Linked DNA regions of Homo sapiens. The protein of the gene in region 4 interacts with the protein of the main gene of each other region in a pairwise test. Each region holds a gene or a part of one and is shown on either strand. Other genes may lie near its edges. The genes, in order: KIAA1217, FAM81B, LMO2 and RINT1.

Region 1 (7,351 bases), on a different chromosome or scaffold from region 4:
TTACAGGCATGAGCCACCATGCCCAGCCTAAAATTTTTTTAAATTGAGTTTTCATTGTAGAAGAGATGTCCAAGCAAACAAACAAAACCCACAACACTAAGAACAAAAATCCTGTGTCTTAGTACCACTTCTATCAAAGAATTGCTATATGCCCTCTGGGTCACATTGTCCTACTTATAAAATGAGGGAGGAGGTATTATTTAGATGACCTGTAAACTCCTTTAAGTTCCACAACAGAGAGTTATACATAAAATGCATTTTAAAACATCTGCATACTTTTTAAAAGAATGTTTTCTGTGACTTTTGAACCAGCACATTAATAATTCTAAGGGGGCAGAGTGGAAATTCACACCAAGATTAGTGGAACCTTATAACCTAAGAATTGGCAAAGATCATTGAATCAACATATGGGAACTTTGAGGTCCAGCGAGATGGAGAATTTGCCCAAGTTTCATTACATATAAATAATAGCCACCACCTTCACCATTCTAACCCTCCTTTATTTTTTCTTCCTAGCATTTATTACCACCTGGCATATACTTTTTTTCTGTCTCTTCCTACAAGTAGGTAAGTGTCTTGAGGGCAGAGACTTTGTCTCTTCTGTTCACTGGCTTTCCCCCGAGCCTACGAGGGCCTGGTACATAACAGGCTCAGTAATCTCTGTTGAATGAATAAAGCTCACCCCATTTGTCAGTGGCAGAGCTGGCAGAAAAACCCAGGCCTCCATACCTGTGGATCAGGGCATTTTCAGAGATGACTCGTGTCTCCTCTCAAAGCGTAAAATACACACATCACAATGATAACTATGCCCACTAGGTTCTCAACAGAGATTTGTTAAATAAGAGTGCCATCATACTGACATCCTTTAAATGTTGAGATGTTTAAAGTGGCAAGACGTCTTAAGTGACGGATCTGCCAATTCTTAGGAGGAAATGTCTTTCCCTCCCCTGCCCTACTAGGTACTGGGAATAGAATCACACTCTGTCAATCACATTTCTGTACCCTTGTGATATGCGTTTTTAAAATAGCTGGCTCTGATTAGAGGCAAGCCAGGGCCCTTGCGACACAGAGAAACCACCTAGTGTTCAGAGGCCCCGAGGCTGCGACCGTGGCTGTGGCAGTTTTGCCAGGTCGTCTCGATATACCCAACCTGACCTCTCCACTGGTGACTTTCAGTAGAGGCAGGAGGGTTACGACAAGGTTGTTGGGTGATAAAGCAAATGAGTGGAGGAAAAGTTACGAGGCAAGAAGAAAAAAGAAGTAGAAAAGACAAATGTGTTATCGGAGCACTGGTACCAGCCCTTGATAAAAAGAATATTTAAAAACATAATATGTCATTTGATCTTATGATTTTTAAGACAGGGTCTCACTCTGTCGCCCAGGCTAGAGTGCAGTGGCGTGATCTTGGCTCACTGAAGCCTTGACCTCCCTGGGCCTGGGTGATCCACCCACCTCAACCCCCTGAGTAGCTGGGGCTACAGGCACGCGCCACCATGCCCAGCTAATTTTTGTATTTTTTTTGGTAGAGTTGGGACTTTGTCATGTTGCCCAGGCTAGTCTTGCACTCATGTTCCAGTGATCGACCCGCCTCGGCCTCCCAAAGTGCTGGTATTACAGGTGTGAGCCACCACACATGGCCTCATGTCATTTGGTCTTAAGACCTAGTTTTCTCTTTTCATTCTGACTGCTCTACCGTTCATTCTTAGATGACTATAGTAATTTCTCATCCAGCTCTCTTAATTCTAGACCCACCACCTCAATCAATTCTGTACGTTGTTTCTAGATTAATTTCCAGAAGATGCCATTTAAAAAAAATCACGGATTAGAGCTGCAGCATTTCTCTGATACCTTCCAAATAAACTCCAAACATCATGGACTGTTTTTCAAGCACTCAAGTCAGTTTCCAGCCCATTTCCCCAGTCTTAGGTCCTCGTTCTTGTTCCACTTAGACAGGCTTAGTCATGGTCCCAGACTTTGATCCAGCATTTTAGTATCCTAGGATGCCCTCACCACCCTCCCATGCTAACCAGGTTCCACTTATCATCTAGATGTGTGGCAGACCCTCCCCAGGCTGCCTTCACCTCAGTGGAGTGCTTGAAGCCGGCTTGTCCTGGCCCAGGAGAGCTGATTGTTACATTTCTCCCAACTTCAGCAGTAGTGGTGTCATGTCATAACTTGAAATCAGCCATGGTTGCGATATTTACACCATGGAAATTGGCAAATGCCACACACAGATCTGCACGCACCCACTCTGCCCCCCCACCCCGCCGCCACAACCGCTACCAGAGAGCTGGTTGTTAAACATTTACCAGCACACTGCTGTCTCACCTTCCTACAGGCCAGGTGTCTCACCTTCCTACAGGCCAGGTGTCTCACCTTCCTACAGGCCAGGTGTCTCACCCTTCTCTGAAACCACATGACCTATCTCTTAACCTGGCCACTGAATCCCACTTCCACTTCCAAAACCCTGTCTCTGATCCATACACAATCATGTCATCATCTGACCTATAAATGCTTTAAGGGAAAGGTCCATGTATCAGACTCCTTTATGGGGTTATGAGAAACAGAAATAGGACTCTACCTCGATAGACACTGCCCTGTTCTTGGCACTCACACTGTGGATTTCTTCAATGAACAAGCTCTGCATGGCAGACCCATTCATGGGTATCTGTGGGGACTGCGGAGCCTGCGACATCTGCAGAGTGGAGGTTGCTTCCTGGGGGACGGCTGGGGAGCTGGCCACGTGAGGCAAGTTCTGAGCAGGGTTCAGCAGGGCCACGGAGTGCTGGGAGGGCTGGATGACCACAGGGGAGCTCTGCGCGTGGCGAACCATCATGCCGGACAAAGGCACCACTTCCGACTTCGCATCGCCAGGGGCACCTGTGCTGTGGAAGGGCTGGCCGGAGGTGTGGGCTGCCTCCTCCTGACTCTTCAGGACTTCTGCGGCTGTGGCCTTTTCCATAGCCATGTACTGTGCGGCTTGGGCTGCGTCCGTGCCTTTCAGGAGCCCATCAGTGACATGTCTAGGAGAAACCATGCACAGCGGCATTAACCCTCATGTCACTTTCTCATGGTGGTATACTTGCAGGCTATGTCATCCCAAAGCCAGGTGAGAGTCACACATCCCAAAGCTCAGAGTAGCCGCTTAGGGACATGTATAGACATATCCCTTTCTGCTGGTGCAGTTGTGCTCAGACCCTTGCAACTCCATCATTGTTTGGGGGGTGGGTAGAAGAAAATGAATCATGAGTCTAACAGCAGCCTCTCTAACTCCTCCGCCTGATTCTGGCCTATGCAGCCCTCAAATATGCTTAGTTCTAAGCCAAAAGTTTGCTTATTCCCTCCTCCTTTCACTGCCAAGCATCTTGGGTGGGCCGCCCACATTCTAATTCCTTCTGTTTGCTCTTCTGTATCTCAACCTGTTGCTCACTGGCTTCCCCACCTGGATTCAACGAAGTCTTGCCACAAGGTACACAGTGACTCGAAATCTAACGGTCGTGTTTATTCCTCAACTTCCTCTGGTGTTTGGAGTCATTTGAAGCTATATGTCCCTCCCCACCCATGATGTAGTGGAAAAGACAGAGTGTCTGGTGTCAGATCTGTGTTTGAATAGCAGTTAGTTCATGCTTTATATAACGTTGAGAACTTCGCCTCTTTAAGCCTCAGGTGCTTTTGCATAAAATGGAGTGATGAAGATGGGGATGACGATGGTGATGATAATGACTTCCTCAGGACCTGTCGTTAGGACTAACATTAACATTGTAAAGTTATGTGTGAGGCAATGTCAAACATGGTACTTGACCTCTAATTTTTAGTTAGTCCCTCATCCCCTTTTTATTATGTTACTTTTTTTTATTTGAAAAAAGACATTGCATTCTATAACTCTTCTGCTACTCAGTGCTCTTTCTTTTGCTGTTTCTTTTTTTACCCCAATCCCTTAGATTCTTAGAGATCCCCAAGGATTTGTTCTCTCCTTTCCCTATCATTCTGCCTCAACCATCTCTTCCATTTTCTTTTCTTTTAAGAAACAGGGCCTCGCTCTGTTGCCCAGGCTGGAGTGCAGTGGCTCAATCCTAGCCCACTGCAGCCTCAAACTCTTACGTTCAAGAGATCTTCCTGCCTCAGCCTCCTAAGTAGCTGGGACTACAGGTGTATACCACCCTTCCTGGCTAATTTTTAAAATAATTTTTTGTAGAGATGGGGTCTTGCTCTGTCACCCAGGCTGGAGTGCAGTGGTGTGATCATAGCTCACTGCAGCCTTGAACTCCTGGCCTAAGTGATCCTCCCATCTCAGCCTCCTGAGTAGCTGGGATTACGAGCACGTGCCACTGCACCCAGTGATCTTTCCCATTTTCAATAATCATCTCCATGAAGCTGACTTCATGCTCTGTCTCCCAGGCTGGAGTGCAGTGGCACAACCTCGGCTCACTGTAGCCTCCACCTCCTGGGTTCAAGTAATTCTCCTCCCTCAGCCTCCCAAGTAGCTGGGATTACAGGCACGCCACCGCCTGTAATACCTATGGGAATTCACTATGTTGGCCAGGCTAGTCTCCAACTCCTGACCTCAAGTGATCCACCCACCTCAGCTCCCAAAGTGCGGGGATGACAGGTGTGAGCCACTGTGCCTGGCCAGTGAAGGTACTTCTGGCAACACAAATTTTGCATGCATATGTGTTTTCAGTGAGTGTGGAGTCCTGGAATTTTCTTTGCAGTGAAATTCCTGAATGTCTTTTGGTCTTTACTCCACTGTGACCTCTTCGGTGAGCAGGTTTACCTTTGGTAAGGAAGCCTGGCCCAGGCCACTCAAAATGCTTTGTTCCTCTTTTCTAGGTGGGACCAACAGTCTCACAGATACTCCTTCAGGAGGTCATTTAAGAAAGACTTTGTTTACTTCTATTACATTTCTTTGAACTGAATTCATCTATGCCCCTGAAGTGAAGGAGGCTAATAAACTATTTCAATCAATTTTTCAACTTCAAAATGTTATTTTAAAAAACCCACCTTCCGATGATTTTTTTAAAAGAAATGGAGTCTTTCTCTGTTGCCCAGGCTGGAGTGCAGTGGCTCAGTCATAGCTCACTGCAGCCTCATACTCCTGGGCTCAAGGGATCCTTCTGCCTGTACCTCCTGAGTGGCCACCACACCTGGCCTTTCAGATGATTTTAAAACAATGTTTACTGTGTCTATTAATTTTAAACCCTAGGATGGGCTCCACCTAGCAATCCTGTGTTGAAGAATTAGAACCTCAAGCCATATTGCAATAAAAGTTCAAGGGTGAGAAGGACTTGGGGCTTTTCCTCAGGACACTGGATGTGTCCTGGGAGCATGGTGGAAGGCTGAAGTCCCAAACGTCCACTCTCGGTTTCCCAGTGCACCCCTCCGCAGGCCACCCCCAGCACGATGAGGGCCCGGTCACCTCCGCAGCATGGTCAGGACGTCTGTCATGCTGCGCACACGCTTCAGGAGACTGTCCAGCTTGTGTGGCTCCTCCTTCAGAAACCGCACGGCCTCCACTTCTATGCGCAGGATGGCTCGCATCTTGTTTTGTAAGGTTGGAAATTCTCCTGCAGGCCCAAACCAGCAGGTGAATTGGAGGAGAAAAAGCCAGAACGACAACCCTCATCCCGCACTCCGATACTGGACAGAGAAGTGCAGAGTTCACAAGCCACAGGGTGGCTCACACATCTTCAGGTGGCAGTGGGTTAAGAGCACAGAGGAGCATTGGAGAAACTCACCTTGGGCAAGGGTAAAGCTCCTCTAGGCCTGTTTCCTGTCTGTGTATTTGGGATAAAGCCAATTGACCATTAGGGTTATTATTATTACTTTTTAATTTGACTGGCTGACAGGGTCTCACTCTGTCATCCAGGCTGGAGTGCAGTGGCATGATCAGAGCTCACTGGAGCCTCAAACACCTGGGCTCAAGCGATCCTCCTGCCTCAGCTTCCTGGATAGCTGGGACTATTTAGGTGCTGCACACCACCATGCCCAGCTAATTCAACTTTTTTTTTCTTTTTTTGAGATGGAGTCTCCCTCTGTCACCCAGGCTGGAGTGCAGTGGCATGATCTTGGCTTACTGTAACCTCCGCCTCCTGGGTTCAAGTAATTCTCCTGCCTCAGCTGAGTAGCTGGGACTACAGGTTTGTGCCACCATGCCCAGCTAATTTTTGTATTTTTAGTACAGACAGGGTTTTACTCTGTTGGCTAGGCTGGTTTCGAACTCCTGACCTCAAGTGATCTGCCCGCCTCAGCCTCCCAAAGTGGCATGAGCCACTACGCCTGGCCAGAAAAAAAAAAAAAAAAAAACTTTTTTTTTTTTTTTAGAGATGGGGTTTTGTTATGTTTCCTAGGCTGGTCTTGAACTCCTGGCCTCAGGCGATTTTCCTGCCTTGGCCTCCCAAAGTGCTAGGATTGCAGGCGTGAGCCACCGTGCCTGGTTACAGGTTTTTAATTTAATTTAATTTTTTATTTTTTGTTTTTTATTTTTATTTTTTGGAGACAGGGTCTCACTCTGCCACCCAGGCTGCCAGGCTGGAGTGCAGTGGTGCAATGGTGGCTCACCATAGCCTTGACCTCACAGGCTCAAGAGATCCTACCACCTCAGCCTCCTAAGTAGCTGGTACCACAGGCATGCACCACCACACCTGGCTAATTTTTTTTTGTGTGTGTGTGTATATATATATATATATATATATATTTTTTTTTTTTTTTTTTTTTTTTTGGTAGAGATGTGAGTCTCTCTATATTGCCCAGGCTGGTCTTGAACTCCTGGGATCAAGTGATCCTCCCACCTTGTGTTTTTAACGGGTTTGGCACATGCATCCCGGTGCACTGTAAGAGCCTAGCAAATAGAAAGTGTTACTGGAATCATTTAGTGTGAAATCTTACAGCACCCACTCTAATACCAGCTCCAAGAAGAGGGGGATGTGCACCTACTTTGTGCTGTGGGGTATCCCAAGTGTCCAGAACAATGCCTGGCACATGTAGACGTTTAATAAATACTTGCATACATGAATGAATCCTCTATGTGGCAGATTTTTAAACACCGCAGGAAAGACAGCTCAGACTCCTCCCCCGACCCAGCAGAAAGTTTACCTTTCAGGGTAGCTACAGCCTCTCCCACTTGACGCAGGAGGAAAGCCCCGTCTTCCACGTCTTTCAGAGTAACCAATCGGCTGGCTGCCGTGGAGTCCTTCTTCAAGTCTTCAACAAAGTCTTCCAACTCGCTGCGGGAGCAAGGACACCAGCACATAGAGCTGAACACGAGGCCTCACAGAGGAAGAGGAGGGGCCGAGTGCCCGTCTCAGCCTCTGATTTTGTGTAGAGCCCCAGCTCCTCCCCCCTGCCTTTCGTG
Region 2 (7,986 bases), on a different chromosome or scaffold from region 4:
CAGTACTGAGTCCTGAGACCTCACCTACTTCATTGCCAGTTCTTTCCTCCTCACCTTTCCACTGCTCCCTCTGGTCTGTGTGGGGATCTATTTTTGGCATTTCCTCAGCAACCGGTTGGTCCCTCCTTATATGTTTGGAGAGTAGTCCTCTCCAAGTATTTGTGGAATTAAAGTGTATGATGAATACAGTGTCCAAGGGCACTAACTTGTCCTCCTTTCTCCTTCTGAAGTGTAACAATTAGATCTATGTTTTATTTTTATTTTATTAATTTTTAAGTCTTACTTGAAAGACCACAAGTAGCATCTTCTTAAAAACACACCTACAACACACACTATTTAAGTGACAAATGTTAAGCATAACAATGGAGGAATATTTGGAAAAGTATAGAAAAGTTAAAGATACAGAATAAAAATTCTCGCTTGTAATTTTGCTACCTAGAACAAAAGCCACTGATGTTGGCTTTTGGTGCAATTTTTTAAATGTAATTTTTAGGTATCTAAGACAGTATTTAAATTTTTATATCTTTGCTAATTGAACATAAGAGTCAGTTCTGTTTTATCCTCATTCCTATAAGCTAGGATGTTATTATATATAAAAACTGTCTCACAAACAACTTGATGGCCACTATGGGAATTTTTTTACATATATCAGTTTTATCCATTTCATAATAATGCTTTGAATGTTATAGCTTTTTGGTTTTATGGGCTATGAAATACGTTCTTGTATATGACATAATTTTATTTGACATGAATGCCCTATAAAGTGGATATCATTACCTTCCCATTAGTGTAAGGATGACATTAGTTACCTTAAGAAGCTGAAACCCTTATTATGGAAAGAAATTAAGATGACTATTTTTTATAGGTGAGGAGCTTCAGGATCAGAGAAGTACGGGACTTGCCCAAGATCATGTAGATGATGATGATAATCATACTGTAGCCCTTCCTACTTGCTAAGCACTTACTTAAGTGACTCATTCAAACCCACAATAACTTTGTATGATAAGCCTAATTCACCCATTTTACAGAAGAAGAAACAGAGGTTAAGTAATCATTCCAAAGTCCCACAGCTAGTATGTGGTACAGCCTATTATATAATACATACCAAAAATCAATGTTTGATATTGTGCTAGTGCTTTATGTAACAAGTGACTGCATCTGCCTCTTGTTATGTAAATTACAAGGTGTTAAGAGAAGTGCAAAAAAAGTCTAAAAACACTGCTTTAAAAAATGTTCTTTTTAACGGAGAAGATACGACAAGTTCTAATAAAGGAAACATTCTATTTAGCTATACCGGTTTTCATGTTAGAGATAAAGATAAAGTCTGCACCTTGAGTTTATCATGGTTCCTTTTGAATCATCATAAAACATACATAATGATCAACTTAAAAGAATTTTAGCCCCATATATTAAAAATCAGTCTAATTAATGAAATTGTAAATTGAGGTCATTTTTCTTTTCAGCTTGTGTTTTCAGCAGCCATTTTGCCAAGACAGAACAAACAGGAAATGTGGGAGAACTATTCTTCCAGAACTTCTTAAACTCTCTAAGCACTCTAAACTTTAAAGAAGCTGAGCAAAGTATTCTACTTTTAATGTGAATATTGAAAAGTACTTGCTTTCTTTTCTTGGTTATTGTCTGAGCCAGGAAGGGGGCCATCAGGTTCAACTGGCTGTTCCTCTGCAGTCGCAGTTGGAGAGGCACTTTTGTTTACATTTGTATCTAGGTAACCAGAATGCTGAATCAGGTCAGGAACTATGACAAGTGAATTTTTGCAGTGCTGCTAATTTTTTTTTAATTGAGGGCAGTTTCTGTACATATAGCTTGGCTTAAAGGGAGGCTTTCAATTTGCTTTACATTTCCCCTCTCCTCACTTATCCCAATTCTCCCCCATCCCCCCATAACATCTATAGTTAGCTAGAAGAGCATTTCTTTACAGATACTTCTATAAGACCTTTAGAAACTTTTTTAGGATCAGACAGCTCTAAAATAATCAGGAATGTATTTTTTTTAAATTATACTTTAAGTCCTGGGATACACGTGCAGAACATGCAGGTTTGTTACGTAGGTATACACGTGCCATGGTGGTTTGCTGCACCCATCAGCCCATCATCTACATTAGGTATTTCTCCTAATACTATTCCTCCTCTAGCCCCCAACCCCCAACAGGCCCCAGTGTGTGATGTTCCCCTCCCTGTGTCCATGTGTTCTCATTGTTCAACTCCCACTTGTGAGTGAGAACATGTGGTGTTTGGTTTTCCGTTCCTGTGTTAGTTTGCTGAGAATGATGGTTTCCAGCTTCATCCATGTCCCTGCAAAGGGACATGAACTCATCCTTTTTTATGGCTGCATAGTATTCCATGGTGTATATGTGCGGCATTTTCTTTATCCAGTCTATCATTGATGGGCATTTGGGTTGGTTCCAAGTCTTTGCTATTGTGAACAGTGCTGCAATAAACATACGTGTGCATGTGTCTTTATAGTAGAATGATTTATAGTCCTTTGGGTATATACCCATTAATGGGATTGCTGGATCAAATGGTATTTCTAGTTCTAGATCCTTGAGGAATCACCTCACTGTCTTCCACATGGTTGAACTAATTTACACTCCCACCAACAGTATAAAAGCGTTCCTATTTCTCCACATCCTCCCCAGCATCTGTTGTTTCCTGACTTTTTAATGGTTACTATTCTAACTGGCATGAGATGGTATCTCATTGTAGTTTTGATTTGCATTTCTGTAATGACAAGTGATGATGAGCTTTTTCTCGTATGTTTTGGCTGCATAAATGTCTTCTTTTGAGAAGTGTCTGTTCACATCCTTTGCCCACTTTTTGATGGGGTTTTTTTTTCTTGTACATTTGTTTAAGTTATTACTCTGTTGTGCCCAAGCCTTCTGAGGGTCTTCATTGGGATTCATTATTTTGTTTATATGTAATAAGAAACAGAAGAAAGATAGTGAAGTAGGAGAAATTTAGAGACCTCGAATAGTCCATAAGTACCTGAACTCATGATGCTTGCTTTTCCAGCTTTATTTTTTGTAGATTTGATATTTTTGAAAAACAATCTCTGTGATTTTTTTCTTTTTTCTGAGGAAGCCAATGTACCAAGGAATTGTAATTGCATCCTAACTAAGGTCTTCCTGTTTCTGGGGCCTCTTCCCAAGGGTGACTTAGTAGCATTGTGACTGCAGGAAGGATCTATGATGTCAGTGTGGCTGGCCCTCACAACTGAAGTCAGGAAATCCCTGGGATTTAGAAGCTTTGAATGTTTTCTGTAGTGCTCATCATCATACAAATCACTAAGCCTTTCACTTCTTTGTCTCATGGGGTGGGAAGTGGCCATTGTTATACTGATATTTCACACTCTTCTCCTGATTTCATCTTCACAGTTTGAAAAGTGACGAGTTATCATCAAGCTAGACAAAGAGGAAATGAAATGCTGCGGTATGCCCAAATCTTTCTCCAAGTATGTTAGGGAGGAAGCTAACTCTTCTAGGTTAGAAGGGGACTTCACAGATAGTGCAGCACTGATGAAAAGTGACATGGGTCAGAGTTTTACAGAAATGAAAATATTGAACTTTGCCTTTGTAGGGGAAATTTTGTTCAGTTATTTAGCCAAAAGGGGGTGGATTGTTTTAGCTGTAAAATGTTTGTCTGAGTTTTAAAATTAGAATTTGCATGTTTGTTAGTACTACTTGGCCTCCATATACAGAAATGATGCTTTGGCTAAGTTGTTGTCCAAATTATGGTATCAGATTTGCCTTGTTTAAAGGCACACAATGTTCAGGATGCTGAGTGACAAACTTTGATCCCACAGATAAAGGACACCTATGATTTGGGCTTCCATGCATATCCCCTAGTCCTAAGCTAAGCCCTTAAAACTCAAAGATGCAGTAGTTCATGGTTTGCAAGCAGTCCAAAAGGCTCATTATGCTACCCTAATCACCATTGTATCTAGTGCCAAGGGAGACTGACACACAGCAGTGACTAAGAGCAGGTGGCTACAGATTCTGAGAGAGTGGATTGGAACCCTGACTCCTCAACCTACCAGCTGTTTAGTTTGGACAAAATTACATCACCTCTTTAAGCCTCAACTTTCTCCTCTGTGAAATGAGCTAATAATATCGATCCCATAAGATGGTTGAGAGGATTAAATGTAATAATATACTTACAGCGCTCAGCTGAGGGCGGTGCCAGGAATCCACTAAAAGATAACTATTATTAGCGATTATTTCACAAGGTGCCAATTATCCAAGAAACAGTCACAAGCAGAGTCTGTGTGAGAAAGAAAAACTAGATTTAACCTTGCTTAACAACTTTTTAAGATTCTTTCTCTTCTTAAATTCAGCTTTTAATCCATGGTATTTGGTTAGAAAAATGGGCCCTACTAAAATGGACAATTTTGGTAGGTTTGTTCTCTAAACATAAATGGCTATTCAATTTTAACATAACAATGCACATAATATATATGTATATTATTAATGTCTGCTCTGGTTTGAATCTCTCCACCAAAACTCATGTTGAAATGTAATTGCCATTCTTTTTTTTTTTTTTTTGAGTTGTAGTCTTGCACTGTCACCCAGGCTGGAGTGCAATAGTGCGATCTTGGCTCACTGTAAGCTTGGCCTCCCAGATTCATGCCATTCTCCTGCCTCAGCCTCCCAAATAGCTGGGACTACAGGTGCCCACCACCACACTCGGCTAATTTTTTGTATTTTTAGTAGAGACAGGGTTTCATCGTGTTAGCCAGGATGGTCTCGATTTCCTGACCTCGTGATCTGCCCACCTCGGCCTCCCAAAGTGCTGGGATTACAGGCGTGAGCCACCGTGCCTGGCCTATTGCCATTCTAATAGTATTAGGAAGTGGAGGCTTTAAGAAGTGATTAGGTCATGAGGGCTCTCTCCTAATGAATGAATTAAAGCCCTTATTGTGGGAATGAGTTAGTTATCATAGGAGTGGGCTCCTGATAGAAAGGATGAGTTTGGCTTAGTTTATCTCTTTCTGTCTTGCATTCTTATTTCCCTTCTTGCTATGTTATGATGTAATATAAAGATGTATCCTCTCAATCTTGGACTTCCCAGCCTCTGGAACCATGAGCCAAATAAATGCCCAGACTATGGTATTCTTTTTTTAGACAGAGTCTTGCTCTGTTGCCCAGCCTGGAGTGCAGTGGTGCGATCTTGGCTCACTGCAACCTCTGCCTCCAAAGTTCAAGCAATTCTCATGCCTTAGCCTCCTGAGTAGCTGGGACTACAGGTGTGCACTGCCATATCTGACTAATTTTTGTATTTTTAGTGGAGACGGAGTTTCACCATGTTGGCCAGGCTGGTCTCAAACTCCTGACCTCAAGTGATCCACCCATCTCAGCCTCCCAAAGTGCTGGGATTACTGGTGTGAGCCACCATTCCAGGCCCCAGACTATGGTATTCTGTTATAGCAGAAGAAGATGGACTCAAATAGCTTCCCACTTGTCTAAAATGCATATGTAAAATCCTTCTCAGAAGTCAATAATCTTCATATATCTTTTCTAATCTAGGGCTAATAAAAGCACAGAAATTAAAAATGTTCAATTTCAATCTTTAAAGTGGCCTTATACTATAGTATATTTAATATAGATCTAAAGACATAATCCTGACATGGTGGTCAGTGATGGGGGATAGTCAGTGTTGAAGGTCATCAGACAGAAACGCTATGTGTTGTGCACTACACAACCCTCTGGGGCACTCATGGTAACACTGTAGATTTTCATATTTGTTACAGTAATTTTTCAGGCATATATCAAGAAAATATCTCATTTTACCAAAGAAAGTCAGGATAATTTTCTGACATGGAAGTAAAGGGTTTTGAGAAAGCGGCACCTATTTTTAACTCACACAAGGAGTGTACAGTGAGGCACTGTCAATGACCAACTGCATATATGATGGTGGTCCCATAAGATTTTAGTGGAGTGGAAAAATTCCTATTATCTAGTGATGTTGTAGCCATCATAACATTGCAGTGCAATGCATTACTCATGTGTTTGTGGTGATACTGGTGTAAACAAACTTGCTGAACTGCCAGTTGTATAAAGGTATAGCACATGCAATGCTGTACAGTACATAATAGTTGCTAATGATCATAAACAACTATGTTACTGGTTTATGTATTTACTACAGTATACTTGTTATCATTTTTTAAAATTTTTAGTTGACACATAACTGTACATATTTATGGGCTACAGAGTGATATTTAGATACACGTATACAATGTGTAACAACCAAATCAGGGTAATTAGCATATCATCACCTCAATCATTTATCATTTTTTTGTGTTGTGAATATTCAAAATCCTCTCTTCCAGCTTTTTGAAAATATACAGTAAATTATAGTTCACCATTTTCACCCTACAGTGCTGCAGAACATCAGAATCCATTTCTCCTATCTAGCTGTAATTTTGTTTTCATTAACACACTCTCCTCATTCTCTCCTCCCCTTACCCTTCCCAGCCTCACGTTTCTATTCTTTATTTCCATGAACTCAATTTTTTTTTTCTGCCACATGTAAGTAACAACATGCAGTATTTATCTTTCTGTTTTTGGCTTATTTTGCTTAACATAATGTCCTCCAGCCTCATCCACATTGCTGCAAATGACAGGATTTCATTCCTTTGTATAGCTAAATAGTATTCCATTGGGTATATAAACCACATTTTCTTTATCCATTCATCTATTGATGGACATTTAGGTTGAAACCATATCTTAGCTATTGTGAATAGCACTGCAACAAACATGGGAATCTAGGTGTCCCTTTGATATACTGATTTCCTTTCCAGTAGTGGGACTGCTGGATCATATGTTAGTTCTATGTTTAGTTTTTTGAGAAGCCTCTACAGTGATTTCCATATTGACTGTACTCATTCACATGCCCACCAACAGTGCATAAGTGCTCTCTTTTCTCTGCATCCTCACCAGCATTTGTTAACTTTTGTCTTTTTGATAATAGGCATCCTAACTGGGGTGAGGTGGTATCTCATTGTGGTTTTAATTTGTATTTCCCTTATGATTAGTGATGTTGAGCATTTGAGCATTTTTTCATATTTCTTTTGGCCATTTGTATGTCTTCTTTTGAGAAATGTCTTTTTTTTTTTTTTTTTTTTTGGCATGGAGTTTCATTCTGTTGCCTAGGCTGGAGTGCAGTGGTGTGATCTCAGTTCACTGCAACCTCTGCATCCTGCGTTCAAGTGATTCTCCTGCCTCAGCCTCCCTAGTAGCTGGAAGTACAGGCGTGTGCCACCACGCCTGGCTAATTTTTGTATTTTTGGTAGAGATGGGGTTTCACCATATTGGCCAGGCTAGTCTTGAACTCTTGACCTTGGGTGATCTGCCTGCCTCGGCCTCCCAAAGTATTGAGATTACAGGTATGAGCCACTGCACCCGGCGCTTTGCCTACTTTTTAGTCAGATGATTTGCTGCTGTTGAGCTGTTTGAGTTCCTTATATGTTCTGGATATTAATCCCTTGTCAGATGAATAATTTGCCAATATATTTTCTCATTCTAATAGTTGTCTTTTTACCCTTTGATAGTTTTCTTTGCTGTGAAGAAGTTTTTGAGTTAAATATAGTCCTATTTGTCTATTTTTGTTTCCATTGCCTGTGCTTTTGAAGTCTTTAAAATCTTTGCCTAATGTCCTGAAGTGTTTCCCCTATGTTTTCTTCTAGTAGTTTTATACTTTCAAGTCTTACATTTAAGTCTTTAACTTGTTTTGAGTAGATTTTTAAATATAGTGATGGATAGTGTTCTAGTTTTGTTCTTCTGCATATGGATATTCCATTTTCCCAGCACCATTTATTGAAGAGAGTATCCTTTTACCATTATATTGTGCTTGGCACCTTTGTCAATAATCAGCTGGCTGTAAATGTGTGAATTTATTTTTGTTCCATTGGCTTATGTGTCTGTTTTTATACCAATACCATGTTATTTTAGCTACTATAGCTTTGTAGTATATT
Region 3 (7,351 bases), on a different chromosome or scaffold from region 4:
CTATTCAGTCTTGAAGGTTAAGACACCAGTTCTGTAATGAGCTAGGTTTGTTATAACAAAAACCCCCACTTCCTTCAACAAATTCTCAGGAGAAAAATAACATTCCTTTTTAAAAGTATGTTTATGCAAACAATGGGTTTAAAGGGTGGTTTGATCACTTTTTTAAAATAAACTTAAAACTGAGCTCTGAGTTTCAGAGACTGGGCAAGATCATAGTAACACAATAAGGGAGTGAATTGGATGAATTGGTGCCTCATGCCTTTTTGATCAGCAGAATTTAGTCACTAATCCTTTCAATAGAAGATTAATCTGAAGGTTTCATTTCCCTGAAGGAAGTTTGCTTCTTTCAAAGTTTGTGCTTTTTCACTGAGGTTAGAAACTGAAACATCCTAACTTCCTAATACAACAGATATCTACTGCTGGAGGCTCACCAGCTCCTTCCTTCACTTCACTATTTGCCCAACGAAGACAGATTCTGATCAAAGAGGGACAAGCCAGTTGAGAAATTGCTGCAGCACATTCTCCCCATGCCCTTAGAAATTGTTATGATTGTCCCAGAAATCCAGGCTTAAATGATACTCAGGTGTAATATTCAAGATAAGGGTCTGGGAGAATATAAAATATTAATTTGAGGGTGAATCAATCTAATTCAGTCATTGTCTTGGATTGTCCACTAAGTATAATGTGATATTATCATTAATTAAGTATAGAAAGACAGAGCCAATATCTTATACTTTACTTCTCCATCTCATCTCAGGCCATCACCGTAACTCTTTTACTTTACATTCCTCCTGTTGTCCAGTATCCTACTAGATGCTTCATTGTGTACTTCCTCAAATCCAGCTTGGGTCATTACAATCAGCATCTCCAAATTACAGATGGAGACTTGCCTAGCTATATGCAAATGAAACATTTGGACAGAAAGCCAGCCAGAATTCATGAACACAGATTCCCTTGCTGTGCTACTGGTGGCCCCCACTGCCTCCCCTGTGAGTAACAAGAGCAGTTCATTTGAATTCCAGGCAGTTTTGCACCAGCTAAGGGCAAATTCTCTTCTTTCACAGTCCTTTGGCAGCATCAACATCGGGACATCCAATGTGCGTCCAGGTTCCATGAGTGGTTTTGAAAGCCCAGAGTAAGACCATGGGCTGTGGAAAGAGAAGAGATGCAACTCTGAGTTGATACACATGAAAAAGCTAGGGTATTAGTTATTAGAAGGGGAAATGGCAGTCCTTATATACAATCTGTAGAAACAAAGGAAAGAAAGCAAGGCTTCAGTGAATGAAACCTCGTCTCTACTTAAAATAAAAAAAATTAGCTGGGCCTGGTGGTGGACACCTGTAATCCCAGCTATTCGGGAGGCTGAAGCGGGAGAATCACTTGAACCCAGGAGGTGGAGGTTGCAGTGAGCCGAGATTGTGCCATTGCACTCCAGCCTGGGCAATAAGAGTGAAACTGTGTCTCAAAACAAACAAACAAAAAACTATAGTTTTGAATTTTTTTGAGCTAGGGTCTCACTGTGTTGTCTAGTCTAGAGTGCAGTGCTCACTGCAGCCTCAACTTCCTGGGCTCAGATGATCCTCCCACCTCAGCCTCCTGGGTAGCTGGGACTACTGGCTCATGCCACCAAGCCTGGGCAATTTTTTATATGTTTTGTAGAAACAGGATTTTGCCACGTTGCCCAGGCTGGCCTCAAACTCCTGGGCTCAAGTGATCCTCCTGCCTTGGCCTCCCAAAGTGCTGGGATTACAAGCGTGAGCCACTGTACCTGGCCATTTTTTTTCCCCAGATAAACTAACTTGAGCTTCCCATTTTCTTGTTCCAAAGATGATAGTCTCATGAAGTGCTGTTACACTGTGTCTAGAAAGTGTGGGCATGGCTTTAGCACTCCTAAATATTCATAAGGAACACTTCATACTTCACATGACGGGATCACCTGAAGTTGTCAGAGTGTTATAGACATTGAGCCACCTAGCCTCCTGTCCCCAAGTATAATGGCTGCTGGGCTTTATGGGCACAGACCAATTAGGACACAAGGTCGCCTGGTAAGTTAGTACCAGTTAGAAATAGGAGACATGGATTTATACCTGCAGGGTACCCAGGAGGAAACTCCCTTTGGGAATTTTACAGATGGAAGAAGGTCTGTTTTTTGAAACATAATAGATTTTTAAGAAATAGATTTGTGTTTAAGTAAGGTTCCAGAGAACACTTGCTAATTATTATAAATCAACACGTATTAAGTGTTTGCTGTGTCCCATGTGGGGGACACTAGAATAATTCCTTCCACTCCTTTATTTTCTTTTAGCAAAGTTATTTATTTTTAAATGTAAAAATGTATTCAGATTCCAGTGAAGCAAAGTGAACAGGAGATGCTATGCATGGCGTATTAACGAAAGAACACGTGTCACAGCCTATTAACAATTGCTGGATTGAGATGTCAGTGTCTGTTTAATTGCCTTCCACTCTCTTTGAAATAATCATTGCCCCCACTTCATTTTCTTCCTCAAATCAACTTTATCCAAATCAATTTTACTCTTATAAAAATGTTCAGGTAAGGAAAGAAAGGCCTATTTGATGTCCTTCGTGTAACAATGGCCTTACGATATGGGATTTTCCTCCAAGTATTCCTTCAGTAGGAAGAATGGAAAATGGAATTTCTGTAAAAAAGTAAAATTAGGAGAATTCCTATTATGTCCTGATGGAATTTTGATTTTGGAAAGAGAAAGCAACCTAAAATAATTTTTGGTCTCATTCTTCTTTCTTCCTCACCTCTGCTTTTGTGCAGTTGGTTAGGGCTGGAGGGAGGATGGCACTGGGGATTTGCAGATTCTTAGCACTCTGGGTCATCTGCTGCCCTGGCAGTGAGCGACTCTTTTAGTCCAGAGTGCGTCCTTTGAGGTTAGGCAGTGCCCTTGGGTGTCCAGGTTATGGGAGGAGGAAAATGAGGGAGATCTGTGAAGATAGAGTCAGCGGGGAGAGTGGGAAAAAGCAGAAGGAGACCAGAGGTGCCCAGGTAGTGCTGGGCATGGGCAGGGGCACAGTGCCACCTGCAATTGCCTTTGATGCCTCTTGGTGCCCTGTGTTTACTTCTTAGACATCTAGGGAGTAAGGTCTGGCTCTTTCCCGTCTTAACCCAAGGTTGGTTGGGACTCTGCAGTCTGGCCAAGGGATGTGTTGTCCTGTCCCTTCTCCCTTAGGTCACTGAAAGGCAGTCAGGTGAGATGCCCTGTCTGGCCCAAAACGATCTCGGACCCTCGGTGCTGGTCTCACTCTGGTGAGGCTGTCCCTGATGCTTGGCCTTCTCTCCAGGGAACCAGTGGATGAGGTGCTGCAGATCCCCCCATCCCTGCTGACATGCGGCGGCTGCCAGCAGAACATTGGGGACCGCTACTTCCTGAAGGCCATCGACCAGTACTGGCACGAGGACTGCCTGAGCTGCGACCTCTGTGGCTGCCGGCTGGGTGAGGTGGGGCGGCGCCTCTACTACAAACTGGGCCGGAAGCTCTGCCGGAGAGACTATCTCAGGTACCCTCCCCGGCACTCCACTGGGCCCTCGGAAGGGAGGCTGGGTGGTCCATGGACATCTGCAGTCGGTGTGTGTTGCCCCTTACCCTGCTCCAGGCTCGGACACCACCTATAGAAAGAGGTCAGACTGCAGAGGCTGAGTCTCAGCTCCTGTGCTGAGAAGCAGAGGGCATTTCTTCCTGTTTGAGAAGCATGTTCTCAGGGTTACGTTCCTATGTGGTAAAATACTAATATCTTTAAAGGCAAGAGAATTGTATACCCAAAATTCAGAAAAGTGCTTCCCTTGGGGAGCGGGAGAAGCTAGGGGATGGGATTGAGGAGGAGTACACACGGAGGATCAGAGGGACTGGGAGTGTTTCTAAGTTTGGAGGTGGGCTCTGAGGACCTCATTTGAATGCTTCAGAACATATATGTATGTTATAAATTTTTTTTGTATGACTCCAGTATTATATGATGAGAAATTTAAAAATAGAAAGCATATGGAGCTCCAAGCATTGACTCATAGCAGGAAGGCAGTCTTCGAAGAGCAGAAAGGCAAAGGCCCTGTAGGCAGTTGGAGGTTTGAGTCCCAATACCATTGCTTCCCAGCTTGGTGGCCTTGGGCAAGTTATTTAACCTTCCTAAGCCTCGATTTCCTTATCTGTAAAATGGGGATGATAATAGCACCTACCTCTAAGGATGTGGGGAGGATTTGATGGAATAATGCAGATAAACTACTTGGCTTGGTATGGATCAAATAGATGTTAGCTGCTCTTACATAATCATTATTTTCCAATCTAATGAGCAAAGGGATGGAAGAATGGAAGAGTAAAATAGGAACTCGACAACACCAAGTAAGACAGGAGCTGAGGACATCTCCCATGCTCTGGGCCATCCTATTGGCCATCCGAATTTTCCAGCACTGTGTGAAAGCCTTTGCCTAGAATGTACTAGTGTTTCTAGTTTCCGATGAGCTGCTGTGGAGGTAACTGTCTCTGTGCCCTCTACTGTCAGATCTGCTCAACTGTGTAGCTGTCAGTATTTCTCCGTTTTCCTGGAGCAGAGGGTCTGTGAAGCATGCTTCCCTGATACACCAGGACCATCCAACCCATGGAAGCTTGTTGAGACCTCAGCGCCCTTGGCTGCTGGGCCAGCTTTTCCTCCCAAACCTGCCCTCAGAGCATTTTACATTATAGAAACAAAACAAAACCAAAAAAACTGCAGGCAGTTTCACAGTGAAGGAAGCTTTACCTAAAGACTGTTAGAAGAAGCTTTTTGTCCTTGAATTCCCAGATAAAGTTCTTGCAGTCCTTGCAGATATGGTGGTTCCGAGAAAATAAGTAGGATTTTGCAATGATCATGCTTATAATTTTGGTCAGTTTTCTTTTTTTTAAGTCACAGAAAATAGAACTTGGATAAATACAGACCTGGTTTTGCTCACTCCCAGTTTGCCAAGTCAGTGAGAGGGCAGACGGGTAAATGATTCCCATCGGACCCTTGACTCCATCCCTGTCAAATCATTTGAATCTTATTAACTGAAGTGCAGATAGAGTAAGGTCAGAAGAGCCCCAGCTTCTCCCTATCTCTACCGTTTTATATAACATTCAGGAATAAAACCAGTGCTGCCTGGGCTTGTTAATCCTTTCCATTTTCAAAAAGGAGAGGAAAAAAAAAACAGTCTGGGAGAACCCAATGTTAATTAACTTGTGTCTTGGTGACATGAAATAATTCTTCTCCCTGCCACATTCCTAGGCAACATGTTAATTAACTCTGCATTAGTGCAGGCATTTCCAGCCATTCTTTAATATTTATATTATTGTTATTAAAATGGGCAGCAGAGAGCTTAAGATGGGACATCTCTTGACAGAGGAGAAAAATTGTCTTTTGCGTCAGGGATGGTCCTTTAGCCAAGGTCTTGTTTACTGGCATTCTTAGTATATCTGGCAGGATCTTTTAACAAGGCAAGTTGGAGGAGTAACTGAACGGGCCCTCTAATGTGTTTGAGTTCTTCACCCCTAGGATAACTTGTCCCCGTGAGGATTTCCAATGGCTGAGTTGCCTGTTACAGTTCTTTTCCGACATTTAGCTTCAAACATTCATGAGACCCCCATGCAGAACCTCAACTCTGCTGCTGTGTTGTATTGTTGGGAACCCAAGAGCAGCTGTTCATGTCTGTGCTGAGCCAGATCTCCTTGGATCCCTTTTCACTAATTCTTGTGTGCTGGGAGTGGTGGGGTGGCGGTGATGGCAGTGGTTTTGCTTTTAACAGCCAGCACCTGAATCTGTTAGAGCCAGAAGTATGCCTGCCCCAACTAGACCCCCAACGGACCTTAACCAGTGACAGACATGGTGGGAGTACCAAGCCCCGCAGCCTTGCCTGGAGCCAGGCATAACTTATATTCCAGGGTCCCTCCCCTCTGAGGGACTTTGCCTGAGGATACAACTTGGCTTGGCTTCCTCCCCTTCCCTCCAGCCTCCCCTGCTGCCTTCCAGGTTTTTCCTGAGAATGCCTCATTCATAAATCACTGGCACATCAATCCTTGCCTCAGGGGCTGCTTCTGGGATATCCAGCCTAAGATACCAATTCTTGGTGCCAGAGGTTAATGCTCAAGTTAGGTGTCAAGTCCCGGCTTATTTTTTACTAATATTAGAATCTCCGAATCCCAGAGCTGGAAGGGGCTACAGAGACCTTCTTTTTCAGTTCCCTTGCTTTATGGCTTAAGTCACAGAAGCCTGTACAGGGGACTCCATTTGCTCAGGTCACCTGGCAAGTTAGAGGTCATGCTGGGACCTGAACTTGTCTCCCACATATTCGTCCTTTGTCCTTCCCTTCATAGCTGCCTGATGTGGGTTGTAATTTACCCCCTGACTTCCCTTTAATAAGCTCCCTCCTTCCTTAAGGATCGCACACCCCAGGCAGTTGGATTCATTCCATGCACACTGTTTTCTCAGTCGTTCATCCTTGCTCAGGCCCAAACTTAACTTACAGAGCAGTCAGGAAACCAGAACTGTCTTTCCACTCTGTGACCTCCAATGTGGCGGTTACCTGCAGCTCCACCATCTGCTACGTTGGGATAAAATGTTCTCCCCCCAGTAATGAGTTTGCTCCCAGGCGGTGCTTTGAAAACACTCAGAGATCTTCAAATGGAAAGCAGGATTCAGAGGCAAATTAGCTGGCCCTGGCCCGAACAATGAGCTCTCCACTCACAGACCACCTCTTGTCAATTCCATTAATCTCGCCCAAATATTGCAAAATGTGTCAACTGCCCTTAGGTCCCCTACAACCTCTCAGAATGTACCCACTGATTCTCTGATATCCTGAAATCAACCAGAACTTCCAATAAGAGCAAGCATTCACCTAAAACTGTCCTAAAGGTTTTATGTAGAAACCACCTGCTAACATGCTATGTTTTCAGCCACGAGTGAAAATTACTTCCTGCAGCAAGACTGGCACAGCTGGGAATACACCCAAGATGTGTTAAAACATAACCAGCGTTGGCTTAGCCCTTGACCATGGGTGCCCTGACATGCTTCGTTTGGTTGTTTTAACAGCTGAGTGAGGTGGAGCCTATGATGGCTGCCATTTCACTGAGGCTCAGAGAATCAGAGGTCTCTCCAGGGTCACTCAGGGCTGGTCCGGGACATTGAAGCTGGGTCTTCTCTGCTTCCGGTACTTGTGTTACTGCACTTTTGCTGTTGATTCTCAAATGTCAGCCTGCAACCAGTCCCCCGGAAGTGTTCATTAACGCACAGACTGCTGGGCCTTCTCCCCAGGGTGTCTCAGTTGGGTAGGGAAGGAGGAGGGCTGAGAATTTGTTTTTTTGTTTGTTTGTTTAGTTTTTGCTTT
Region 4 (7,351 bases):
TATTTCCGCTCTTGGGCATCAGATATTGCTGAGTTATCATTGCAAAACAAAGCAAAGCAAATAGTAAGCACTTGGTATTTCTTTTCTTTTTTTTTTTTTGTGAGTTGGAGTCTCGCTCTGTCACCCAGGCTGGAGTGCAGTGGCACAATCTCTGCTCACTGCAACCTCCACCTCCCAGGTTCAAGCGATTCTCCTGCCTCAGCCTCCCAAGTAGCTGGGACTACAGGCACATGTCACCACACTGGACTAATTTTTGTAATTTTAGTAGAGATGGGTTTCACCATATTGGTCAGGCTGGTCTGGAACTCCTGACCTCAGGTGATCCACCTGACTTAGCCTCCCAAAGTGCTGGGATTACAGGAGTGAGCCACTGCGCCTGGCATGTACTTGGTATTTCTGCTCTTAAACCTGTATAAGACATGCGTAGTTTTTGTAATGCAGACTAGCAATTTTTTTTTTTTGGAACGAAGTTTCACTCTTGTTGCCCAGGCTGGAGCGCAATGGTGTGATCTCGGCTCACTGCAACCTCTGCCTCCCGCGTTCAAGCGATTCTCCTGCCTCAGCCTCTTGAGTAGCTGGGATTACAGGTGCCCACCACCACGCCCAGCTAATTTTTGTATATTTAGGTGAGACGGGGTTTCACCATGTTGACCAGTCTGGTCTTGAACTTCTGACCTCAGCTGATCCACCCACCTCGGCCTCCCAAAGTGCTGGGATTACAGGCATGAGCTGCCACGCCTGGCCAGCAATTTTTTTCTTGATTTACTTTTTGAAAATAAAAACCATAAGAAAATAATATTAAAATTATTTTCAAATGCTATTTCAAAAAATATAGGCCATCAGTTCTTTGTAATACTCATCATTTTACATATTATTGAAGTGCTAGGTTTTAAATATATATGGCATTGTAAATTTATGAGTTTATTGACTTAAGTCATATTATTGAAATTTGTTGGGAGTACATTAGCAAACATTTGATTATTAAGCCTTGCAGGAGTTTAAAATTTGGAGTAGAAATTGTGCTCTTACATACAGGAATTTTCAACTAATTTTTATAAGTGTTGTGCATATACAATTAAATAGAACCATGTAATTGTAACTTTCTAATTGGAATGACTTAAGAATTCAAACTATTTTCCTCCTTCCTTAGCCAGAATGGTACTTGGCTCAAGTACTTATGTGGATTGGAAACCATACTGAATTTCTGGATGAGAAGATTCAGCCAATATTAGACAAAGTAGGCTCTTTGGTAAACGCAAGGGTAAGAGACTCAGTCATAAGTGTTTCTGTTTTAGAACTGTATGTGTGCATGGATAACTTTTTATTTACATACCTCATGTTTGTGTATTTTTTTAGCTTGAATTTTCTCGGGGCCTTATGATGCTGGTTCTTGAGAAGTTAGCCACTGATATTCCTTGTCTGCTATATGATGACAATCTCTTCTGTCATTTGGTGGATGAAGTACTCTTGTTTGAAAGGGAGCTACACAGTGTTCATGGCTATCCTGGCACTTTTGCTAGTTGTATGCATATTCTATCAGAGGAAACCTGTTTTCAGAGATGGTTGACGGTGGAGAGAAAATGTAAGTGCTGATGTGGCCAGATGGTAGGGAGATATGTCTGTTTCTGTGGGTATACATTTTTGATATTTTTCTTCTCCAGTTCTAAATAGGAACTAGAGCCATTTGAAATTTCCTTTTCAGGGTTTTCTGTTTCCTTCAGAGATAATCTTTTCTTTACTTCACATGAAACTTCCATTTTTCCTGAAATTACACTCTACATATTTCTAGAGTGGAATAGTCAAGCCAGTGGGGTGTTTGTTTTATAGATTTTATCATATAATTTATTTTATTTTTATTTATTTATTTTGGGACAGACTCTTGCTCTGTTGTCCAGGCTAAAGTGCAGTAGTTTGATCTCAGCTCATTGCAACCTCCACCCCCTGCGTTCAAGCGATTCTCCTGTCTCAGCCTCCCGAGTAGTTAGGATTACAGGCACGCACTACCACGCCTGGCTAATTTTTCTGTTTTTAGGAGTGACAGGGTTACAACATGTTGGCCAGGCTGGTCTGGAACTCCTGACTTCAAGTAATCCACCTGCCTTGGCCTCCCAAAGTGTCAGAATATTTTATTTTTTTATTTTTGAGATAGGGTCTCACTTTGTCACCGAGGCTAGAGTGGAGTGGGCCGATCATGGCTTACTGCAGCCTCGACCTCTGGGGCTCAGGTGATCCTCCTGCCTCAGCCACCCCAGTAGCTGGGAGTATAGGTATATGCAAGCCATGCCTGGCTACTTTTTGTATTTTTTGTAGAGATGGGGTTTCCCTGGGGTTTTGCCCAAGCTGGTTGTGAACTCCTAGACTCAAGCAATCCACCCACCTTGGCCTCCTGGAGTGCTGGGATTACTGGTGTGAGCCACCGTGCCTGGCCAATAGAATATTTTTTACTGTAGCTTATCTAGTCAACATAACTATTTTCAGAATTTGGGGATGGGAGTAAAGTATCCTGTTTAAAGCATTAATTAAGTTAAATTTAGTACAACCAGTGGGATATTGTAGGTTTGTTTCTTTTTTATAGAAAAGCCATCATTCCTAAAAAATTACAAGTTGAATAATTAGGAACGACTGTAACTACTTAATTGACATAATTGTTTTGTCTGCTTATCAGTTGCTCTTCAAAAAATGGACTCAATGCTTTCCTCAGAAGCTGCCTGGGTATCGCAATATAAGGATATCACTGACGTGGATGAAATGAAAGTTCCAGATTGTGCAGAAACTTTTATGACTCTACTCTTGGTTATAACTGGTAAGTATGTCTTTTAAGATATGACTTTGTTTTAAAAGTACTGTTTTCACGTGGTAGTTTTTAAAGTAGCTCAGTAGGCTGGGTGCAGTGGCTCATGCCTGTAATCCTAGCACTTTGAGAGGCTGAGACGGGCAGGTTGCTTGAGCCCAGGAGTTCGAGAACAGCCTGGGGTACATGGTGAAATGCCCTCTCTTCCGAAAAAATACAGAAATTAGCCAGTTGTGGTGGTGTGTGCCTGTAGTCCCAGCTACTTGGGAGGCTGAGGTGGGAGGATTTTTTGAGCATGGGAGGTAGAGGTTGCAGTGAGCCATGATCACGCCACTGCAGTCCAGCCTTGGTGACAGAGTGAGACCCTGTCAATAAAGTAATCAATAAATAAGTGGCTCAGCAAATTAATATTATATGATGGTTGTTATCTTCAAATTCAGTTTCTATATTGGTAGAAATCTAACACAATATTCTAACTTTTGGGTTTTTAATAATTTAAGGATTTAAACATTGGTATACATGAAGGAAAACTTCCTGAATAATTACACAAAAACAATTAAATAGGAATTTAATTTTATTATCCAAACTGTCTTGCTATTGGGCTTTTTAGGTGTCTTCAGTAAATGGTGATTGGCCTATATTTTAAATATTGTCTTGATCTTGATTTATCAAAGATTGCAGAAGAGAGTAAAATAATGAAGTAATTTTAAGGATTGGAGTAGTAATAGGAACTTTTGTTACAGTGCAGGGATTCTCTGGCTGGAGGGTAGCCTAGCATCCTCTGGCCCTGGTTGGTCTTTAGCCAATCACGTTGCCCCCTTGTGGGCCTGCTTGTTGTCCAGGTGCCACTGGACCCTCATTGCCACCATCCCTGGCCCTCTTCACCTTCGTCAACCACTAGCCTGTCCGTTTCTTAGGCTTGTCTGGTAACCTGAAGAAGTATCATTCCAGCCCAGTCAGTAAATAATTCCTTTTTTTTTTTTTTTTTTTTTTTTTGAGATGGAGTCTCACTCTGTCACCCAGGCTGGAGTGCAGTGGCATGATCTCGGCTCACTGCAACCTCTGCTGCCCAGGATCAAGCAATTCTTTTGCCTCCGCCTCCCAAGTAGCTGGGATTATAGGCACCTGCTGCCACGCCCAGCTAATTTTTGAATTTTTAGTAGAGACGGGGTTTCACCATCTTAGCCAGGCTGGTCTTGAACTCCTGACCTTGTGATCCACCTGCCTCGGCCTCCCAAAGTGCTGGGATTACAGGCATGAGCCACCGTGCCCAGTCATCATTCCATATTTTTAACTATAAGAAAAATATGAAAAATACTAAGACAAAAAAATTAAGGAAAATTCATGTCTCTTAAAAACTTTTTATTCAGAAAATTTTCAAACATACACAAAAGTAGGATAATATGATGAACTCTCAGGTACCTATTGCCAAAGTTTAAAGCAATTATCACTTTTCTGTTATATTTTACTCCTCAATTTTTTTTTTCTGGAGTATTTCAAAGAAAATTTCAGACATCTCATCATGTCAATTGTAAATTCTTTTTTTTGAGACAGAATTTCGCTCTTGTCACCCAGGCTGGAGTGCAATGGCGCAATCTCGGCTTACTGCAACCTCCGCCTCCTGGGTCCAAGCAATTCTCCTACCTCAGCCTCCTGAGTAGCTGGGATTACAGATGCCTGCCACCATGCCTGGTTAATTTTTTTTTGTATTTTTACTAAAAATACAAAAATTTACAGGCAGTTGGCCAGGCACGGTGGCTCACACCTGTAATCCCAGCACTTTGGGAGGCTGAGGTGGGCAGGTCACGAGGTCAGGAGATCGAGACCATCCTGGCTAACACAGTGAAACCCCGTCTCTACTAAAAATACAAAAAAATTAGCCAGGCATGGTGGCGGCTCTACTAGAGATGGGGTTTCATATTGCCCAGACTGGTCTCGAACTCCTGACCTCAGGTGATCCACCTGCCTCGGCCTCCCAAAGTGCTGGGATTACAGGCGTGAGCCACCATGCCTGCCTGTAAATTGTCTTTTTTTTTTTTCTTTGAGACAGAGTCTCGCTCTGTCGCCCAGGCTGGAGTGCTGTGGCGCAATCTCGGCTCACTGCAAGCTCCACCTCCTGGGTTCACACCATTCTCCTACCTCAGCCTCCTGAGTAGCTGGAACTACAGGCACCCGTCACCATACCCAGCTAATTTTTTTTTTTTTTTTTTTTTTTTTTTTTGAGATGGAGTCTCACTCTGTCGCCCAGGCTGGAGTGCAGTGGCGCCATCTCAGCTCACCGCAAGCTCTGCCTCCCGGGTTCACGCCATTCTCCTGCCTCAGCCTCCCGAGTAGCTGGGACTACAGGCACCCGCCACCACACTCGGCTAATTTTTTGTATTTTTAGTAGAGATGGGGTTTCACCGTGTTAGCCAGGATGGTATTGATCTTCTGACCTCGTGATCCACCCGCCTCAGCCTCCCAAAGTGCTGGGATTACAGGCGTGAGCCACTGTGCCCGGCGAATTTTTTTGTATTTCTAGTAGAGACAGGGTTTCACTGTGTTAGCCAGGATGGTCTTGATCTCCTGACCTCGTGATCCACCCACCTCGGCCTCCCAAAGTGCTGAGATTACAGGTGTGAGCCACCGTGCCCGGCCAACTGCCTGTAAATTCTTAAATGTGTATCTTTTAATTTATTGAAGTTCTTTCTTTTTTAAAAAAATGCTGTTTATTTGTGTTGAAGAAACTGTCATTTTTTTTTCTTTCTTTTTTTTTTTTTGTTAGATGGAGTCTCACTCTGTTGCCTAGGCTGGAAAGCAGTGGTGCCATGTTGGCTCACTGCAACCTCCACCTCCCGGGTTCAAGCAATTCTCCTGCCTCAGACTCCCAAGTAGCTGGGATTACAGGCACACGCCACTACTGCCCGGCTAATTTTTGTAGTTTTGGTAGAGATGAGGTGTCACCATGTTGGCCAGGCTAGTCTTGAACTCCTGACCTCAGTTGATCCACCTGCCTTGGCCTCACAAAGTGCTGGGATTACAGGCGTGAGCCACCACGACTGGCCAAAACTGTCATTTTTATGTATAATTTTTTCATTTGCCTTTTTGAAAACTTGAGGTATAGTTTACATACAGTGTAATGTGCAGATCTTATTTGTATTGTTCAATGAGTTTTGGCAAATGTATATACTTTTGAAACTCACATCCTTAAGAGAGCTCAGAAATAAATCCATTCTTGACTACTGGTCAATTGATTTTTGACAAAAGCACTGAAGCAGGACAGTAGGGAAAACTTATAACTATATCATAGATGGTACCAAAACCTTCATATGTCTTAATAACTTTTTCCACAGACAGGTATAAAAATCTTCCCACAGCTTCCCGAAAGCTTCAGTTCCTGGAGTTACAGAAGGACTTAGTAGATGATTTTAGGATACGATTAACACAAGTGATGAAAGAAGAGACTAGAGCTTCCCTTGGCTTTCGATACTGTGCAATTCTTAATGCTGTGAACTACATCTCAACAGTACTAGCAGATTGGGCTGACAATGTTGTGAGTTAATATGCTTTTATATTAAGTAATATATACTAGTTCGAACTATTTTATTAATACTTTTCAAAATGTTGAATCTATTGCAAGCAAAAATAAACATGCTAGACAGAACCATAGTGCCATAATTAAAAGGTGTAATTAAAATACACATTTTTCTCAATCAAATCTCAAGTAGTTAAATAGTCCTGATATTTTAATGTATTTAATCATTGGAAAGGCAAGCAAGCCTTTCATGAAATAGTTGTTTATAGAGTGAACCATACTTGGAAATATTCATGTATGGTAATTGCAATCACAGGAAGAGCTAAGATTAAATAATGATGTCAAAAGCAATCCAGGACTTTAAGGAAAATAAAAGAATAATGTTTAATACCTCTTGAATGTCTTCAAAACATGACAGATTATAAAGAGTCATGAAAATAGGAAGAAACATTTAAAGTTTTAATTGTTTCATACATTAAAAATCTATTTGGCTGGGTGCAGTGGCTCATGCTCTTAATCCCAGCACTTTAGGAGGCTGAGATGGGAGAATTGCTTGAGCCCAGGAGTTGGAGACCAACCTGGGCAACATAGGGAGACCCCATTTCTCCAAAGAATAAAAAATAAAATAAAATTAGCCAGGTGTGGTGGCATATGCCTGTAGTCCGAGCTACTTGGGAGGCTGAGGTGGGAGGATCACTGGAGCCCAGAAATTCATGACCAGCTGTGCAACATAGTGAGACCCTGTCTCTACAAAAAATAAAAATAAGAAACTAACATTTCATGTATCAAATTTTCAAATATATGCAAGAGTAAATAGAATAGGAAAATGAACTTCTGTGGCGTGGCTATCACTCAACTTCTTTTTTTTTTTTTTGTGACAGAGTTTCGCTCTTGTTGCCCGGGCTGGAGTGCAATGGTGCGATCTCGGCTCACTGCAACCTCTGTCTCCTGGGTTCAAGGGATTATCCTGCCTCAGCCTCCTGAGTAGCTGGGATTACAGGCACCCGCCACCATGCCTGGCTAATTTTTTTTTTAGTAGTAGAGAC

Evidence for each region.
Region 1: the proteins of RINT1 (region 4) and KIAA1217 interact in binary tests that used the Homo sapiens proteins (3 or more experiments, as listed by UniProt).
Region 2: the proteins of RINT1 (region 4) and FAM81B interact in binary tests that used the Homo sapiens proteins (3 or more experiments, as listed by UniProt).
Region 3: the proteins of RINT1 (region 4) and LMO2 interact in binary tests that used the Homo sapiens proteins (3 or more experiments, as listed by UniProt).

What each region holds. Positions count from the first base shown.
Region 1 is NC_000010.11:24,519,995-24,527,345, reverse strand, and holds part of KIAA1217 (sickle tail protein homolog), read right to left. Parts: intron 7,224-7,351; coding exon 7,093-7,223; intron 5,565-7,092; coding exon 5,417-5,564; intron 3,024-5,416; coding exon 2,582-3,023; intron 1,875-2,581; exon of another isoform or gene 1,784-1,874; intron 568-1,783; exon of another isoform or gene 530-567; intron 1-529. UniProt on the Homo sapiens protein: Required for normal development of intervertebral disks.
Region 2 is NC_000005.10:95,386,530-95,394,515, reverse strand, and holds the start of FAM81B (protein FAM81B), read right to left. Parts: upstream 3,151-7,986; 5' UTR 3,127-3,150; coding exon 3,003-3,126; intron 1,723-3,002; coding exon 1,619-1,722; intron 1-1,618.
Region 3 is NC_000011.10:33,860,776-33,868,126, reverse strand, and holds part of LMO2 (rhombotin-2), read left to right. Parts: intron 1-3,309; coding exon 3,310-3,525; intron 3,526-7,351. UniProt on the Homo sapiens protein: Acts with TAL1/SCL to regulate red blood cell development. Also acts with LDB1 to maintain erythroid precursors in an immature state.
Region 4 is NC_000007.14:105,548,905-105,556,255, forward strand, and holds part of RINT1 (RAD50-interacting protein 1), read left to right. Parts: exon of another isoform or gene 1-63; intron 64-1,150; coding exon 1,151-1,261; intron 1,262-1,356; coding exon 1,357-1,582; intron 1,583-2,665; coding exon 2,666-2,803; intron 2,804-6,123; coding exon 6,124-6,323; intron 6,324-7,351. UniProt on the Homo sapiens protein: Involved in regulation of membrane traffic between the Golgi and the endoplasmic reticulum (ER); the function is proposed to depend on its association in the NRZ complex which is believed to play a role in SNARE assembly at the ER.